Linked DNA regions of Homo sapiens: region 2 is linked to region 1. Evidence: fine-mapped expression QTL. Tissue or cell type: whole blood. Region 1 holds a variant in brackets; the other region holds the start of a gene. All regions are shown on one strand. Distances are from middle to middle. Region 1 overlaps PAM (peptidylglycine alpha-amidating monooxygenase). Region 2 holds the start of PAM (peptidylglycine alpha-amidating monooxygenase).

Region 1 (8,679 bases):
GTCTCCTTTTTCATAGCATATGTTTTGCAGTGCCCTCTTTATTACCAAGAAATGAAATTTATGTGTAATATAACCTGCCTAAGTGTGTAATTCAAAAATATGCATATATATGTGTGTGTATATATATGTGTATATATATATATGTATATATATAATTCCTAACTTTAATATAAAAGAGCAATACAGGAATAAGTAATTTATAATAAGATAATGTGTATTTCATTCAATATGTAAATGTTTAGTTATGATTACACCATAAGACCTAATGAAGTGTTCAAAAGCTTGATCCTATATGTAGAATAACAGTATGTGTGACAGCTACAAATGCAGATTGATGTCTTTGTTATATTGACCACTCAGATAAAGTATTCCCCCCCTTATCTGTGGTTTCATTTACTGTGATGGTTAATACGTGTGTCAACCTGATTGAACTGAAGGATGCAAAGTATTGTTCCTGTGAGGGTGTTGCCAAAGGAGATTAACATTTGAGTCAGTGGGCTGGGGAAGGCAGACCCACCCTTAATCTGGTGGGCACAATCTAATCAGCGGCCAGTGAATATAAAGCAGGCAGAAAAATGTGAAGAGGTGAGACTGGCCTAACCTCCCAGCCTACATTTTTCTCCCATGCTGGATGCTGGATGTTTCCTGCCCTCAAACATCAGACTCCAAGTTCTTCAGTTTTGAGACTTGGACTGGCTCTCAATGCTCCTCGCCTGCAGACGGCCTATTGTGGGACCTTGTGATCATGTAAGTTAATACTTAATAAACTCCCATATACATATATATATATATATATATATATATATATATACACACATATATATATGTATATATCTCCTAATAGTTCTGACCCTCCAGGGAATCCTAATATAGTTACCCTTGGTCAACTATGGTCCAAAAATTTGGAGAGTTCCAGAAACAAATAATTTATAAGTTTTTAATTGTACACCATTCTGAATAGCATGATGAAAACGTGTGCCCCCTGCTCCATCCAACCCAGGATGTGAATTATTTCTTTGTCCACTGTATCCACATTACATATGCTACCCACCTCACCTGTTAGCCATCTGGGTTATCAAATTTTAAAAGAACATAGCATATATAGGATTCAGCACTATCCACAGTTTTAAGCATTTACTGGGAGTGTTGGAAGATATGCCCCGAGGATCAGGGAAGACTACTGTACCACCATTGGCATTGTTGTTGGTGATGTGATTTTTCCAAAATGATGAGCAATTCTTGGCAAAATTTCAAATAAAACTAAATATTGTCTTTCTTGATTCATGTAGTAACTTCATTTCTAAACATAAGGGGTTTTAAACCATGTAAAAAATACTTGTGTTTTTATGTAAAATGGATTTGGGTCGTAAGCTTAGCTCATCATAAAGACATTTATTACCTATGTGATTTGTAGGACATTTGAGAGTTAAGTAGGATGTGGTGCCGTACTTCATTAAAAAAAGGTCGTGCACATTGCATGGTGTACCTCCCGACTGAACTCCTGCCTACTCTTGCTGGCAGCTCTCCCCACACCAGCCCTGACAACCAGATTTCTGAATCTCACACTAGGGGGCAGTACTGCATCCCATGAAAAATCATTGCTCTAAGGCAGGTTTCTTAACCTCAGCACCTTTTTCTTTCTTTCTCTTTCTTTCTTTCTTTCTTTCTTTCTTTCTTTCTTTCTTTCTTTCTTTCTTTCTTTCTTTCTTTCTTTCTTTCTTTCTTTCTCTGTCTTTCTCTCTCTCTCTCTCTTTCTTTCTTTCTCCTTTCATATTTTGGGTCAGGTAATTCTTTGTTGTGGGGGCTGTCCTGTGCATTGGAGGCTGTTTAGCAGCATCTCTGGCTTCTACCCCCTGGATGTCAGTGTACTCCTCAAGTTGTGATAACCAAAAATGACTCCAGATGTTGCCAAATGTCTCCTGGAGGGTAAAGTTGCCCCAGGTTTAAAAGCACTACTCTGAGATCTCTATCAGCTCCAAAAATCTGTCATGAGAATGATACAGTATTGATTAATATGCAAACATTGCATACAATACTTGTAGATATTGCTAACATTTTTGGGCCAGGTGAAGCCAGTAAGAAAAGCTTTTAATAATTACTCATTTTTTTGGGTCATTTAACACTGGGATTATATTATTGCCTGGCTTTAGAAGGGTTGAAATTATGTACAGTATAGGGTGATAAATTTTGTAGTATGAGAGCATAGGAGAACTAGAATTTCAAGAAAGACTATTCCAAGAAGGTCCTTTGGCAAGTAAGAGTTCATTGAATTCCTTTCTGACAAGTTTGACATTCATGTTAAAGGTTACAAAATCAGAATTTTAGTTTTGTAAGAAGTAATAGAAATTCAGTGGGTACCTTCTCATTTTACAAGTGAGTAAAAACCTAAATGCTAAAGTGCAGTTCACAGTTTAGTTGTGAATCAGGACTTTAATGCATGGCTTTGGTGTCCCCTGTGCTGTTCCTTTTACCACATTGCAGTGCTGCTCAGCCAGGCTATATTTATAAAATATTTTTAGCTTTCTGCAAGCTCTAAGTCTTGATAGGAAATAAAAGACAAAATAACATTTTTCTTTAAAACCTTGATCTTTAGAATGCATGCCAGGAAAAATAAGTGAGAAGGTCAGTTATTATATACAGGGACTTGCATTCATAGATTAAGCCCAGAAATATTTTTAATACTAATGTAATAACAACAATTTACATGGTGCTTCTTGTGGATTAGCCGTGCTCTTCTAAGAACTACACGTTTTTAATGCTTATAACAACCCTATGAAAACAGATACTGTTATAATCATCTCCCTTATGTAAATGAGGCATCAGGAACTTAAAAAAGCTTGCCCAAGGTCGTAAGGGTAAGTGGCTGGTCTGCGATCTGAAAACAGCCAGTCTGCAGTCCACATCCGTGTTCTTGTCCACTACTTACTCCAGCCTTAAACTTTGAACTGAATAAGGATGGATTGGTTTTGTATCCTTGCTCATGAAATGGATATTCCTAGGAGCTCAACATTTGGAGAATTTCAAACCTGAACACTTTAGAACACATTATGTTTTCTTCAAAGAGTAAATCATACCTCACACTTCTCCAACATTTACACCAAAGGTGAATTTGCTCTTTATAGGATATAAGAGCTTCTTTCATCTTGTCCATATCTGAAGCACTTAAAGCAGAACTCTGGTATGAAGTTCATAGCCGGAACGAATCCAGATCTAAATTGAAAGGATTATACAAAGTCATCTTCCTTGTTTGTTTCACCCTTTGTTTTCCCCCCAGAGGAAGGAGAGAAGATTTTGAAATCCTTTATTGCAAAATGAGTTTGAAATAGATACAAATAATAAATATGATTGACAGCTATAGAGGAGAAGGAAAAAACTTGGCTCTTGTTTTAGAAAGATACTTGAAAGGAAAACATCTATGTTTATTGAGAAGTGAGAAGTACATGCAAATCTTTCAAACATAATATTTGAAAGTGAAAATCACGTCATAGGATTTAGAGATATTCCCAAAGTCAATATTTGGTTCTTAAGTTCCAGGTAGTGGAAAAGTCAGAATCAGTTAAGTACCCAGAGCA[C/T]TTGCTCCCTTCCTTTCTCCATTTCTCTCTCTCTCTCTCTCTCTCTGTGTGTGTGTGTGTGTGTGTGTGTGTGTGTGTGTAATTTTATTTATTACTGGTGAAACTGGTACAGGCAACATGTTGGCTTTTTTGTCAATCAGTTTTTTTTTTTGAGAAATTTTGCTTTTGTGAAAAATCTGCCTTTTCAAAGTTTTCTTTCCTTCTATTATACTCCCCATATTTTTGGTGTATCTGAGATGCTAATGGCCTTTCATTTTCAAGTTTTTATTTCCCAGTTGGCAGTACCACTTTTACACTTTGAAGATGGAAACTTGGCAGGAAAATTGTATGTCAGGGTGTATTTCTGTGTGGGGTTGCAAGGGCAGGAAAGAAAAAAAACTCAAATAAGAGGTATTTTCATTGAGTATGATCTTAGCTGGTGGCATATATAATTACCCAGTTATTTCTCTCATGAAATGAATGTTTATATTTGTTGTCATGACCAGGATCAGCTACACAGTTTGTGGGGCCCAGTTCAAAATGAAAATGTGGGTGTATTACCAGATTTAGCAAAAAAAAAAAAAAAATAGAGATGCCCAGTTAAATTTGAATTTCAAATAAACAATAAATAATTTTGATTATGTCCAGAATATCCTGGGACAAATATGATTCAGTTTTCTATCACCATAAATTAGTTTAAATGACCATTGCTTAGATCTGTCTTCAATTTCAGTGAAAGCAAAGGTTAAAACTCATCTGAGTTGCAATAGAAGGTGTTGCCTAGAATCATTGATTTTTTCAATACCAACACCAGTATTTGGAATCATCCCTTTATTTGGTCCCCACTGAAGTTTTCCCACCGTAAGACAAGGTTCATAGTAAAACTAAGCCTGAAGGCCTGGGTGGGAGAAAATAATTTGCAGATTCCAAATTCAGTCTCAGTACAATTTTAGGAACGAATATATATGAAGACCAAAGATCTAGAAATTAATTCTCTTTAAACTACCTCTGTGCCAGTTTGCATACTGGAATGTCTTTGAGTATCCCTTGGGATGTGCATGCAGCAGTATGAGGGCCACTTAACTAGAATGGAAAAGGGGAAGATGAATAGAACCCAGCGCCTGCCGTCAGGGAGCATACCAGCTGGAGGGTGACAGCCTCAGGAAGACCTAATTGTAGAACACTTGAATGGTTTCCCTCTCCTCTTGGATCAAGTTCAAAATTCTTCATGATCTACCCCCATCTTTTTTTTTTTGAGGTGGAGTCTCGCTCTGTCACCCAGGCTGGAGTGCAGTGGCGCAATCTCGGCTCACTGCAAGCTCCGCCTCCAGGGTTCACGCCATTCTGCCTCAGCCTCCCAAGTAGCTGGGACTAAAGGCGCCCGCCACCACGCCCAGCTAATATTTTGCATTTTTAGTAGAGATGGGGTTTCACCGTGTTAGCCAGTATGTTCTCGATCTCCTGACCTTGTGATCCGCCCGCCTCAGACTCCCAAAGTGCTGGGATTACAGGCGTGAGCCACCGCGCCCGGCTGATCTACCCCCATCTTTCTCTCTGTTCTTACCTGGTGCTCCTCTTCTCCCTGTGTAACCTCTAAGCTCCAATCATACCAGCCTTTCTGTCCCTAGCACACCTAAGCTGCTCCTGCCTATGTGCTATTGGGTCAAGCTGTTTTGGTGGGCTAGAATGCGCTTTTCAGTTTCCCCCCTTGCACCCACACACCTTAGATTTCAGGTTTCCTTGGCACCGTAAGCTTGGAAAAATTTAGGTATCACTGTTGTAAGCTCTCATATGACCCTGTCCTCCTCCTTGTACAGTACTTATTACAAAAGTCACTAACGTTTGGTATTCATTACCTTAAACTCTGATTACTTTTGTGCTGTTCACTTTCTGAGGACAGGTACCATCTCTGTCTTATCTAACCAGATATTCCCAGCAGAGAATGTAGCCTCTTCCATATTAAGGGTGAGTCATACATATATGTAGAATTGAATTAAAAATATACTCAACGTATTTGTTGAATTGAATTGATGTTAACATTTATGTGAAACATGACTTTGTGTCAGTCACTGGCGGGCATTTACTATATATTATCTCATTTAATTCACACAAAATCATTTGGGAATACATGCTTTTAGATAGGCAAACTTTATTATTGTTGTTATTCGTTTACTAGGAATTTTTAGGCAAAGCAAGTGCATAAACACCAGGTGAGTGGTCTTAAATGCCATGTTAAGGATTTGGAACTTTTTACTAAACACCAGTGATTCTCCATACTTTAGGAAATCAGAATCACCTGGAGGATTAAAAACAACAAAAAAGCAATGCCCGCATATAATTGGTTTAGGATTCAGCAAGTCATTTTATAAAACTTCCCCAAATAGACTTTTTTGTTGTTGTTCTTTGTTTTTTTATACTTTAAGTTCTGGGATTCATGTGCAGAACATGCAGGTTTGTTACATAGGTATCCCAAGTAGTTTTAATGCACAGCACTGATTGGGACACTAAAAAGTAGTGATGCTAGCCCAGCAGCATTAACACCACCTGTGAACTAGTAAGAAATGCAGATATCTGGGCCCCTTCCCAGTTTCACTTAATAAGAAAAGGGAGGGGGGAGTCCCCAGCAATCTGTATCTTAGCAAGCCTTTCAAATGAATCTCATGCCCTTTAAAGTTTGAGAACCTCTGTTATAAACAATTGGAAACTTAAAAAGCTTTGTACTTTTGTGTTTTACAAAAGAACTTTGGTAGATACGTGGGAGACTGAATAAATAAGGGACAAACCAGAGGGTAAGGCAACCTGTTAGAGCTGTTACCTTTAGAAGTATCATGTGGAGGTAAGAAGATGGCAATAAGAACTAGAGTGGTGGTTATAGGAAGGAAGGAAGGTGGTGGGATCAGGAGATGTTTCAAAAACAGAAATGGTGAAATATGGTGACTGATTGGCTTGAAGAGGTTGAGGGAGAGAGTGAGGTCAAAGAAAATATAATTTCTTTCTGAGTTAGTTAAGTGACATCATGAAACAAGGCAGAAATGTGTTTAGAAAGTGTAAGTTGGGGGAAACCATAAAAGTATTGAATATAAGGTGTCTTCAAGCATCTAGTAAGAGATGTTTTTGTCTCGTTGGAAATTTGGTTTCTGGAACTTTGGAAACAAATGGGGAGTAAGGAGTGGTGTTGGAAGTTCTCACCATTGTATTTAACTTTTTAAAAATCATTCATTCAAGTGGTTATATATGTACTAAATTATTTTTTTAACATGTTCGTTTTATTTCAAATTGAGCCAAAGATGTTGAACTTTACACAAACTATAATCTCTTACATTGGATCATTTATATGAAGTTATTTTTAATAATTATTAGAATTTATGGAATATGTTAGCAGAATTATGGTAAAGCAAAGTTTGCATTTTGTAAATTTACTGTTCCATTCTTGGGTCAAGTGTACAGTGAACACATTCATTTTCAGAGAAAGAACTGAGAGGACACAAGCAAGAATACATTTCACATTTCAGCTGTTAAAGGAGGCAATTTTGTGTCATGTAAGCTCACAGATCCTGGAGCCAGACTGAGCTCTGTCCACATGTAGAAGGTGTGACTTTGAACAGACGTTACTTAAACTCTGAGCGTCTTCATTTCCTAATATGCAAAATGGAGAAATTAGTATTATTCATCTCAGGCTTTTTGTAAGCATTGAATGAGTTAAAACCTGTAAAAGTACTTTGAATAGCGCCTAGAATTTAATTCGTAATCATTAGTGTAAGCTCTTATTAATATCAATTTTTTATTCTCTACTTAGTCTTATTTTCTAAATCGTTGCTATTAACAGTTTCTGAGTTTTTTAATGTGGTTTCTGTTAGTTTTATGAACTGCTGAACATCAAAGGGAATGATTATAAACTAGTGATTTCTAGGAATTAAATTTTGAACCATTCATGGAGAAAATGGAGAAAGGCATCACAAATGTAGTATAATTTCTAAATAAATAGCAACTAAAAATTACTTTCCAAGTTAGACACATGCCATTTTTTAGGTCAAAGTTGCGGGTCAGAAAGGTACTGGGCTCCAGATTCTTCACAGCTTGAAATCTTACTTCATTCATCATTCTGAGCATAGTCAGTAGCAAATCAATAATTTACTTGAAAAGAAACAAGTAACTTACTACTCTTTTGATATGTGGTATAGAGGTCAAGAATATATCTTAAAAACTCTATATCAAAAGTTATAAATAAGATAACTACCAAGCAAAGGCTGATTATAATTAATAATAATAATGATAAATCCCAGCAGATATATTTGACCCCTGTAATGAGAAGAAGGTAACACCTCTGGAAGCAGAAAAAAATCTTACTCTCCCATCTGAGATTTGTAAATTAAGGCTGTTCATTACTGCTGTTGAATTATAATGATCTGAATTTCACTTAAAATCTCTTAATTTAGAAATCATTATGCTGGTGGAAAGGCCAAGGAGAAATGCTTCATCCTTAGCATTTTATTTATCCTCCTCAAAATAGTTTTACCATCCTTATTTTTCAATCTATTTCAAGTGGGGTTGGGAGCTGGCAGAAGAAGAATAGATGTAGTTCTTGGTATTTGCATCTCTAGGTCCCGCCAGACCCACACAGCTCTTCTGACTTGAGCATGTTCCAGCCATGTTCTAAATGTAGCTACCATTATCCCGTGCTGTCTAGAGTTCTTATGTTCTGGGACCTGAGACATATTTTCTGTACCTTTCACTAAGCACAGGAAATCTATCCCAACTATGGGGACAGATCTGTCCCAACTGTGGGGACAAAACTGCCTCCTTTAACAGCTAAAATGTGAATGTAAATTTTTCTATACCTTTCACTAAGCCCAGGAAATCTGTGCCCAATTATGGGGACAGATTTCCTGGGCTTAGTGAAAGGTACAGAAAATAGGCTACTGTATGGTCTAAATGCCTAAACTCAGCTTGAACAAGACCCCAGTCAGCTTCACTCCTGGAAGAAAACTATTGTGCAGCTCTTAGCAAGGAAATTTGTATTTGATACTTCCTAGGGGACCCGTAGTTCCTTCAGAGTTACGAATCCCTTGGTGAGTGAATGGAAAATCCAACCAATTATAGAGCATTTCAGAGAAAAAAATGTTGGCTA
Region 2 (8,679 bases), 28 kb before region 1:
GCAAATTTGACTGTTTGATATAACCATTTTGAAGCTTATTCTGCTACTTGAATGTAACCTTCTGTACTCTTAGATCATGTTTGAAGTGCTGGGAAATGAGAAAGTGTGCATTTGTTTTTTTTTTAATTTTCAAAGAAGCCTGTAGGCCTGAACAGTTGCCAAGTTGTTCAGAGTAAGTTCTGTCCATCAGACCCATCTTTACATAAAATGACTATGAGAAAAGTCTTAAAGGGTACAGGAAATATTTTCCATGAATCCTCCTTTACTCTCTCACTTCTGCTTGAAATGTCACTCTTTTTCAAGGCAAACACTAGTAGGAAGTAGCATCTGAAGTCCCTAACACTTTTGTGTGAGGCAAACTGACTTGGAGAACTGGCAGTATTAGTTGGACAAGGCTGCTATGAAATAAAACTGAAAAAAGAGAGACGTTTACAAAGGAATGTCCATCTCCATCTACTTTGCAACACTGACGGAGACCAATTCTCCTGTCTGTAAATAAACCCTCCCATTCTTTTAGCTGTCAGAGTTTCTCCAGGAAGAAACTAGACCCTTTATCCTCATCAGCTGACTGGTCACCTTTTGCAGTAAGATCATACCATTAATATAAAATTAAAATAATCAATACCAAGGGATTACCATATTCAGAAAGGATATAAGTTTAATAAGGTTCTTTCAAGGACTATTTCTCTTTTGATGAGAAGAAAAAGAGAAATTTCTACCCTCTTGAACTTTCAATGGCCTAGCCTTTTGAGCATTAGAGGAAACAAGCGGGGGGCGGAGAAAGAGATTTTTTAAATTAAATTGGATATAGTATTTTTGAAAGTAAAACTGGGACACTAAGGACTAGTTTTGTAATGACAGAGTGCAGAGACAACCTCAGGTGGGGTGGAGCCCTGAGGAGAGTGAAAAGGGAGGCTTCTCCTCACCTAAGTGGAGGTGGTTGGCTCCACTGCCCAAGCTGGCCTGCACACAGAATGGAATGCCTTGAGGCTGTAAGTCTGAGGCTCTGAGGTGAGGTGCACTACTGGGCGTCTGACAGCACAGCTAAAATTGGCTGTGCCAACCAGTGAGAGGTGACAGCATGCCGGCAGCCCTCGCTTGCTCTGGGCACCTCCGTGGCCTTGGCGCCCACTCTGGCCGCGCTTGAGGAGCCCTTCAGCCCGCCGCTGCACTGTGGGAGCCCCTTCCTGCAATGGCGGAGGTCGGAGCCGGCTCCCTCAGCTTGCAGGGAGGTGTGGAGGGAGAGGCGAGGGCGGGAACCAGGGCTGAGCAGGGCGCTTGCAGGCCAGCTAGAGTTCCGGGTGGGCGTGGGCTTGGCGGGCCCACACTCGGAGTGGCCGGCCGGCCTCGCCCGCCAGGGCAGTGAGGGGCTTAGCACCCGGGCCAGCAGCTGCGGAGGGTGCGCCTGGTCCCCCAGCAGTGCTGGCCCACTGGCACTGCACTCGATTTCTCGCTGGGCCTTAGCTACCTCCCTGCGGGGCAGGGCTCGGGACCTGCAGCCCGCCATGCCTGAGCCTCCCCCAAGGCTGTGGGCTCCTGCGCTACCGAACCTCCCCAAGCCTCCTAGACTAGCGCTGCCCCCTGCTCCATCAGCACTCTGTGTCTAGCTCAGGGTTTGTGGATGCACCAATCAGCACTCTGTATCTAGCTAATCTGGTGGGGACCTGGAGAATCTTTATGTCTAGCTAAGGGATTGTGAATACACCAATCAGCACTCTGTGTCTAGCTCAAGGTTTGTAAATGCATCAATCAGCACCCTGTGTCTAGCTCAAGGTTTGTAAATCCACCAATCAGTACTCTGTATCTAGCTGATCTGGTGGGGACTTGGAGAACCTTTATGTCTAGCTAAGAGATTGTGAATACACTAATCAGCACTCTGTATCTAGCTAATCTAGTGGGACTTGGAGAACTTTTGTGTCTAACTCAGGGATTGTAAACGCACCAATCAGCACCCTGTCAAAACGGACCAATCAGCTCTCTGTAAAACAGACCAATCAGCTCTCTGTAAAATGGACCAATCAGCAGGATGTGCGTGGGGCCAGATAAGGGACTAAAAGCAGGCTGCCCCAGTAGCAACTCGCTGGGGTCCCTTTCTACACTGGAGAAGCTTTGCTCTTTTGCTCTTTGCAATAAATCTTGCTGCTGCTCACTTTTTGGGTCCACACTGCCTTTATGAGCTGTAACACTCACCACGAAGGTCTGCAGCTTCACTCCTGAGCCAGTGAGACCACGAACCCACCAGAAGGAAGAAACTCCAAACACATCCAAACATCAGAAGGAACAAACTCCAGACATGCTGCCTTTAAGAACTGTAACACTCACAGAGAGGGTCCGCGGCTTCATTCTTGAAGTCAGTGAGACCAAGAACTCACCAATTCCAGACACACCAGGACCTTGAGGGTGTGAGAGGTTACCGTCAGGTTACATTTAGAAGTGTTGTCCCAACTACTCTCCCACATTTAAGGCAAAAATATAGTCACCACTGAACAAGAAAATCATCTTGGCACAAAAATGTACTGAATTGAAGAAAGAAAACAAAGAGAAACAAAACACCATAGCCTAGAACTCCTGCCCCTCCACATTTTCTTCTCTCTCTCACACCACAAACTTTCTCTCTGTGACACACACACACACACACACACAGAGGAGAGACGTATTTGAGGGAGGGTCTCAAGTGCTTGCTTTCCTTAACAACCCAGACCAGGAGGAAGAGATAAAGTGACTTAGGAGATGCCTAAAGATGAAGAACAGCCCGGGATCCGTAAACAGACTCAGCTCGGTGTCTTCTCGCACCTTCTCAGAATCAAGTTTCCAAAATGAGGGTCATCCGCCTGCCTTGGAATTTGGGTTGGGAAGTGGATGGAGTTCCTGGACACATGCTCTAGGCCCTGACCAGTCTGGCCACTGCTCACTAGGAATTCTGTTGGGAGGGTGTACAACAGATTTTCCAACTGGTCTACAGCGAGCATCGGTAGTTTCCCTATGGAGAAAATGATTTTCTTTCTGGGAATCCCCCTATAGCCTGAAGGCTTTGCCTCATTTCCCATAGCTCCTCTCCGGTGTACCCCTTCGGTTCGCACTTTCCTACCTTCTTCCCAGTCCACTGGCTTCTCCTTCTTTATCTTCCTCAGTGTCCCTTCTCACAACCTCCCTGCTACCACACCAGATTCTGAAGGGGAGGAGTTGTCTGGAAAGACCAGAGCTGGGTGCTGGGGATCTGGAGCAGCTCGGGACCCGCGCTGCAGGGAGCTGGGATGGGAGAGGTGAGGGAGAGGAGGATGGGACTCTGGGAGAAAGAGAGGGGGCTGGGCTGGCGCTGGGGATGGAAGAGGCGAGGTGAACGCACTCAAGCGGTTACCTGCAGACAGGGAGAGACAGTGGCAAATACCTGCCTTCAATTAAACGCATATCAATTTGTGTGTGGGGTCAGTACTGCACATCATCAAGCCTCTTGGGTATAAAACCTTCCTACTGGAACTCTCCAGCCCCGCCCCCACCACCCCACGCGCGGCTCCCTGCTTTCTCTTGCTTTGGGGTGAGGCTGGGGATGTGGGTGGCTCCAGAGTTCCCTGCCCGCAGTTTAGGGGCGAAGTGATCGGTGTGTGCGCGCTGGGCACTCTGCGGGTTAAAAAGGTTTAGCAGAAAGGGATGCAGATGGAGGCGGGAAGCCAGGCTAAGAAAGGGATACCGACCTCCCTCCTCGGGTCGGAGGTGTGAACTGGGAAGCACTGCGCAGACCTGAGCGAGGTGGCCTGAATCCAGGGGCCGGGCAAGGGGGTGGTGTGAATAGAAATAGCACATTTCCCAGGCTTTCAGCCCCGGTACTCTGCCATCCTTCCAGTTCCATGCACTCAGCCAGGTCTCCAGGCTGGAGCAAGGGCTGGGGGTCAATGGGTCCTTCCTTCTCTCGGGAAACGTTCTTCTGGCGCGAAGCTGGGCGGAGGGAGAGTCGGACATTTTCCTCTGCTTCTCTCAGGGCAGCTGGCGTGGCCACCTCGCAAGGCTGCTTCTAGGGACACGAGACTCGGGAGGGTCAGAGACTTTCAGGCCGGGCCTTCACTCCCTTCCCCGGGGCACTTGGGCAAGAGTTCCAGCTCTTGGCTACCTCTGGCCCGCGCGTGAGTTCAGACACCCAGCACACGCGACCCCCGCAGGGAAACCCCGGGAAGCTGCGCGCAATCGCTGGGGACTCGCCAGGGCTCCACTTCCCAAGCTCCGCGCCCCCTGCGCCCAAAGAGGCAGGGCGGAGCAGAGGCCGCCGGCGTGGAGGAGGCGAGCGCGGGGCTGGCCCGGGAGCCGCCCCCGGGGAGGGACTGAGACCTGCCCCAGGAGTCGAGGGCGAGCGGCGGACCCGGCTGGGCCCGGCGCACGCCGAGGAGAGGGAGCCCCCGCCACCGCCGCTGCCTCCGCGTGCTCAGCCTGTCCCCGCCCAGGGAGCCGGAGCCTCCAACTAACTCCGCCCGCCGCTCCGCCGCCCGCAGGCTCCGGCTTCCGTCCCGGACAGAGCCCGTGGTCGCGCAGGTTGGTGTTGTTGCCGCTGCTGCCGCCACTGCGAGGCGGTCAGGGCAAGGGTGAGGGTGGGGGCGCGGAAGGGGGCCTGGGCTCGGGATCCTGCTGCCACCAATTCCTGGTGCCCCAGGAGGTTGTTGCTTTTTCTCCCGGGCTGCCCGGGTCGGGGGTGGGGGGATGGGGCGGGGATCCAGCGATGCGGCCAGGGAGGATTTTGGGGACTGAGCTATTCTCGCATTTCCCAAACCTCTCTCACGACCCTTCATCACCATTATTAAGTCCCTGGCCAGTTTGTGAGGGGTCGTCCTCCCCTCCGGTCCTTCTCACCTCCGCACTTCTCCTTGTGCCCTCTCCCTAGGGGGTACAATTTGTTCATTCGCCTTTTCTGCCCCCAACTTGGAGAACTCTCCGTGACGCCTAGAAAGCCTCCTCGGTTCTCCGCCCGCCCTTCAGTCTAGTTTGGGGAAGTAGAGGCCGCCGCGGAGTAGCAACCTGGGGTGTGGAGTGGGGGCGAGTGCCGGGAAGCAGTGGAAATTCCTTCCCCTCTTTCTTTCCCGTCCTTGCCCAGCTTTGCTCTCTTCCTGCCGTTTTGCCAGCCTCCGAATGTAATACGCGGGCGAAGGGCGATCTCCAAGGCAGAATGGGAAGTATCCACCACTTGGGATACTAGTTAAGTCTAGGTTCAGTCACCTTCCCAGCTCTGTGGCCTTGGGACCCGCCCCATCGGAACCTGTATGTTGTCATCTGCAAAATATGCGTCAGCTCTGCCTGCCGCTGAGGGTAGTTGTGGGGCTCCCTTGGGATGACTTAGGGTATTACGTGATTTTGAGCACGGTCTCTTGTCTCGTGCAGCTGCCTGATGGCAGGTCCTGTGTTCTGATCGTCTGAGTTCAGGTCCTTTGGCTGAGATGTGATTATCTCTCTGGGTGATTTGGTCAGTAGCTTTGCGGGGCTAAAAGGCATGTGTTCCTGGAGCTGGTCATTGGGGTTCAGAGTTGAAATCGTGTCGTCCCCACCAATCCCTGTGTACAAAGCTATGGACCTTACATCCTGTGCCTTTGTGGTCATAGAAATTCAAGTAGAAGGAAGATCTTATTGGACTTTGTTTGCTTCAGATGTTTTACATTCTTTACAATCGCTTTTCTCTTCTAGGTGCAAACTTAAATTTACTGCTAATTCTAATAATCCAGGAAGGATACTTTCATTTTAGTAAAATCAGACATTTAGCTCAAATAACATGTGACATATTGTTTGTAAATTTTCAGTTTATAATCACAGGCACAAAAAAGCATAGTTCATGCCATTCTAGTTACTTTATAAAGCAAGTAAATGGCCTAAAAAATCAGCTTTACAGGAAGTCAGGGCTGCAGTGAACTGTGTTTATACCACTGCACTCCAGCCTCGGTGACAGAGCAAGACCCTGTCTCAAAAATAAATAATCAGCTTTAGAATTGATATTAAATGGTAAGCCCTGTCGTTCCTGCATTCCTGACTTAATAGGCATTTTCATTCCGCGATGCACTCTGCTATATGCTTTAAAGATATAAAGATATAGAGTATGTTCCTTGTCCTGAAGGGCCTTCCAAGGTAACTTAAAGACTATGTAGTTTTATTTCATATTTTTATATGAACAGTCTTCTAATGACTATACATGGCAAGTAGAATGAGGTCAAGAATGCATTATCAAAGGCCCTTTAAGATCATCATTTGGCCGGCTGCGGTGGCTCACGCCTGTAATCCCAGCACTTTGGGAGGCCGAGGCGGGCAAATCACAAGGTCAGAAGTTCCGTACCAGCCTGGCCGACATGGTGAAATCCCATCTCTACTAAAAATACAAAAAATTACTTGGGCATAGTGGCAGGCACCTGTAATCCCAGCTACTTGGGAGACTGAGGCAGGAGAATCGCTTGAACCTGGGAGGTGGAGGTTTCAGTGAGCTGAGATCACTCCACACACTCCAGCCCTGGTGACAGAGTGAGACTCTCTCAAAAAAAGATAAAACTAAATAAATAAATAGATAAAAAATCATTTGGTGAGTTTGCATAATTGGAAGAAATAACAAGTTTGTTAAGACATTGCTTTCTAAAATAAAATGCCATGTGCTCCTACTTCATCAAGGTGCACTTGGAAATAAAATGAATTCTGTGTTTTTAGAATGAAAGCTTAGGAAAACATTCTACACATGTATGATGTGCTAATCAAATGTTAAAAGCTATAGAAATTTTAATTCTAACTTCCTTCAACTGTATGTTGTGGTTCCCACATACAGTTTTTTTCTCAACTCCTTGAGGAAGGAAATTATAATGCCTAGAAAAAATATACAGAGATTTAATGTAAGATTTTTAATAAGCTGGACCTTAAGGCCTGGTGGGTCCTGAAGTGACTCTGGAAATTTGACTTTAAAAGTTACGAGACTTGGTGAGACTGAGTGTGGTGGCTCATGCCTGTAATCCCAACACTTTGAGAGGCTGAGGCGGGAGTATTGCTTGAGTTCAGGAGTTTGAAACCAGCAACATAGTGAGACCTTCTCTCTACAAAAAATATTAAAAGAAAAAAAAAGCCAGGTGTGGTGGTGCACGCCGGTAGTCCCAGCTACTCAAGAGGCTGAGGAGGGAGGATCTCTTGAAACTGGGAGGTTGAGGCTATAGTGAGCTGTGATCATGCCACCACACTCCAACTTGGGCCACAGAGAGAGGCCCTGTCTCAAAAAAAAAAAAAAAAAAGACTTAGAATTTTGTTTTTTTTTTTTTTTTTTTTTTTTTTTTTTTTTTTCTTGGGGCAAAGAATGAGCAAGAATTCCACCTGGAAAAGATTGACCAGGGATCTTGACTTTCTGTCTAGGTTGTATTTTGTGTGACTCAGTGACATCTCTGATTCTTTTCCTCCTCCTAGGAAGAATTTATCTATCTGCTATGTGCAGAATTTATTAGGCTTTACATACTGGGCTTTGAGGCTTTGATTGGACTCTCACATTAAGGCATGGCAGGCTGAGGGGCAGCCTGAGGGACATAATGTTAACTTTACACTTGGCTTTATTGTTCCATACCTTTGTTTTTCTATTTGTGAAATGAGATTAAAGATCCTTCTTACTGCCCTGGAAGCCGTGTCATCTGGTATAATAGCCATAAATGCTTCTTGTGTGTATAAGAACTTTCTTTACCATTTGAATGCGAAAGCTAATTATTAAAACCACATACAAATAGCTCAAAAGATGGGCTGTGAATAAAGCTGCTGTTGGTGTCATGTGCTCTCAGGTATCCTGGCAGAAATTTCAGTCATCATGTATCCCTACAATTTACTGTGTTGTGGAGAATAAGGCCTTCATTTTATCTGGGGTTGAATGTTTACCTCTCCAAAATGGGAATAATGAAATACTAACCTGAAAGGACTGTTGTCAGCATTAAATGAGCTAATCCATGTGTGGTTCTTAGCACATTGCCAGTATACAGCTATTGCTCTATGACTCAAGTAGTTATTTTAGTTTCTCCAGGGTAGGGGGAGGGGGGAAGGAATGGAATTTCAGTGGTCCACATTTTAAAAATGAATACATATATAAAAATATAAATACACTCTTCCCCAATATTTTGAAATAGCCATTCCTCAGCTAACTTTTTTCATTCATTTATGCAACAAGTGTTTATTCAGCCCACACTAAACGTTTGGCTTTTTCCTAGGCACTGACATACAATGGTATACAAGACAGTTATAGTCACTTTCTTATGACTGAAAGGTCTAGAGAGGGATGCAGATCTGTAAACAGAGAATTATAAATTTATAAAGAAAATTTTTAAAAAATTATAATGCCATATGATTCATGCCATGATAAGGGTAGTGAAGAGAACCTCAGAAGATAGGATAGCAGGGTCCTGGGTAGGTGAATGTCACACAGTGCATCATCTCATCCTAATTGGGTTGGTGGTGGTGAAGGAAAACTTCCTAGCAGCATGAATACATGAAGACCTGAAGCATGAGTGGTAGTTAGCAGCTGAAGAGGTGGGAAGATTGAAAGAGACCAAAGGGAGCATGATGCCTTAGAATGGAAGTCAGGCAGAAAATGTTAAACAATACATAGGTAAGAGCAGGAGGGAGAGGCGTGGCAATCTGGAGAATCCAAGCTGTCTAAAGGGAAAAGTAGATACTCATTTCAGCCAAGTATTGTCAGGTTGGGAT

The links.
Region 2: it holds the start of PAM, and the variant in region 1 is fine-mapped to the expression of PAM in whole blood (INTERVAL, PIP above 0.99).

What each region holds. Positions count from the first base shown.
Region 1 is chr5:102,779,109-102,787,787 of GRCh38, forward strand. All of the region lies in intron 1 of PAM (peptidylglycine alpha-amidating monooxygenase), which reads left to right. Among named protein-coding and RNA genes, the nearest start is that of PAM, 28 kb to the left of the region's middle. The variant C/T (reference allele first, on the strand shown) is at 3,573.
Region 2 is chr5:102,750,828-102,759,506 of GRCh38, forward strand. PAM (peptidylglycine alpha-amidating monooxygenase) reads left to right here and starts at 4,478. Exons shown (of 26, transcript NM_001177306.2): 1 at 4,478-4,521. RefSeq lists enhancers at 3,507-4,032, 5,040-5,540, 5,112-5,201 and a silencer at 4,172-4,721.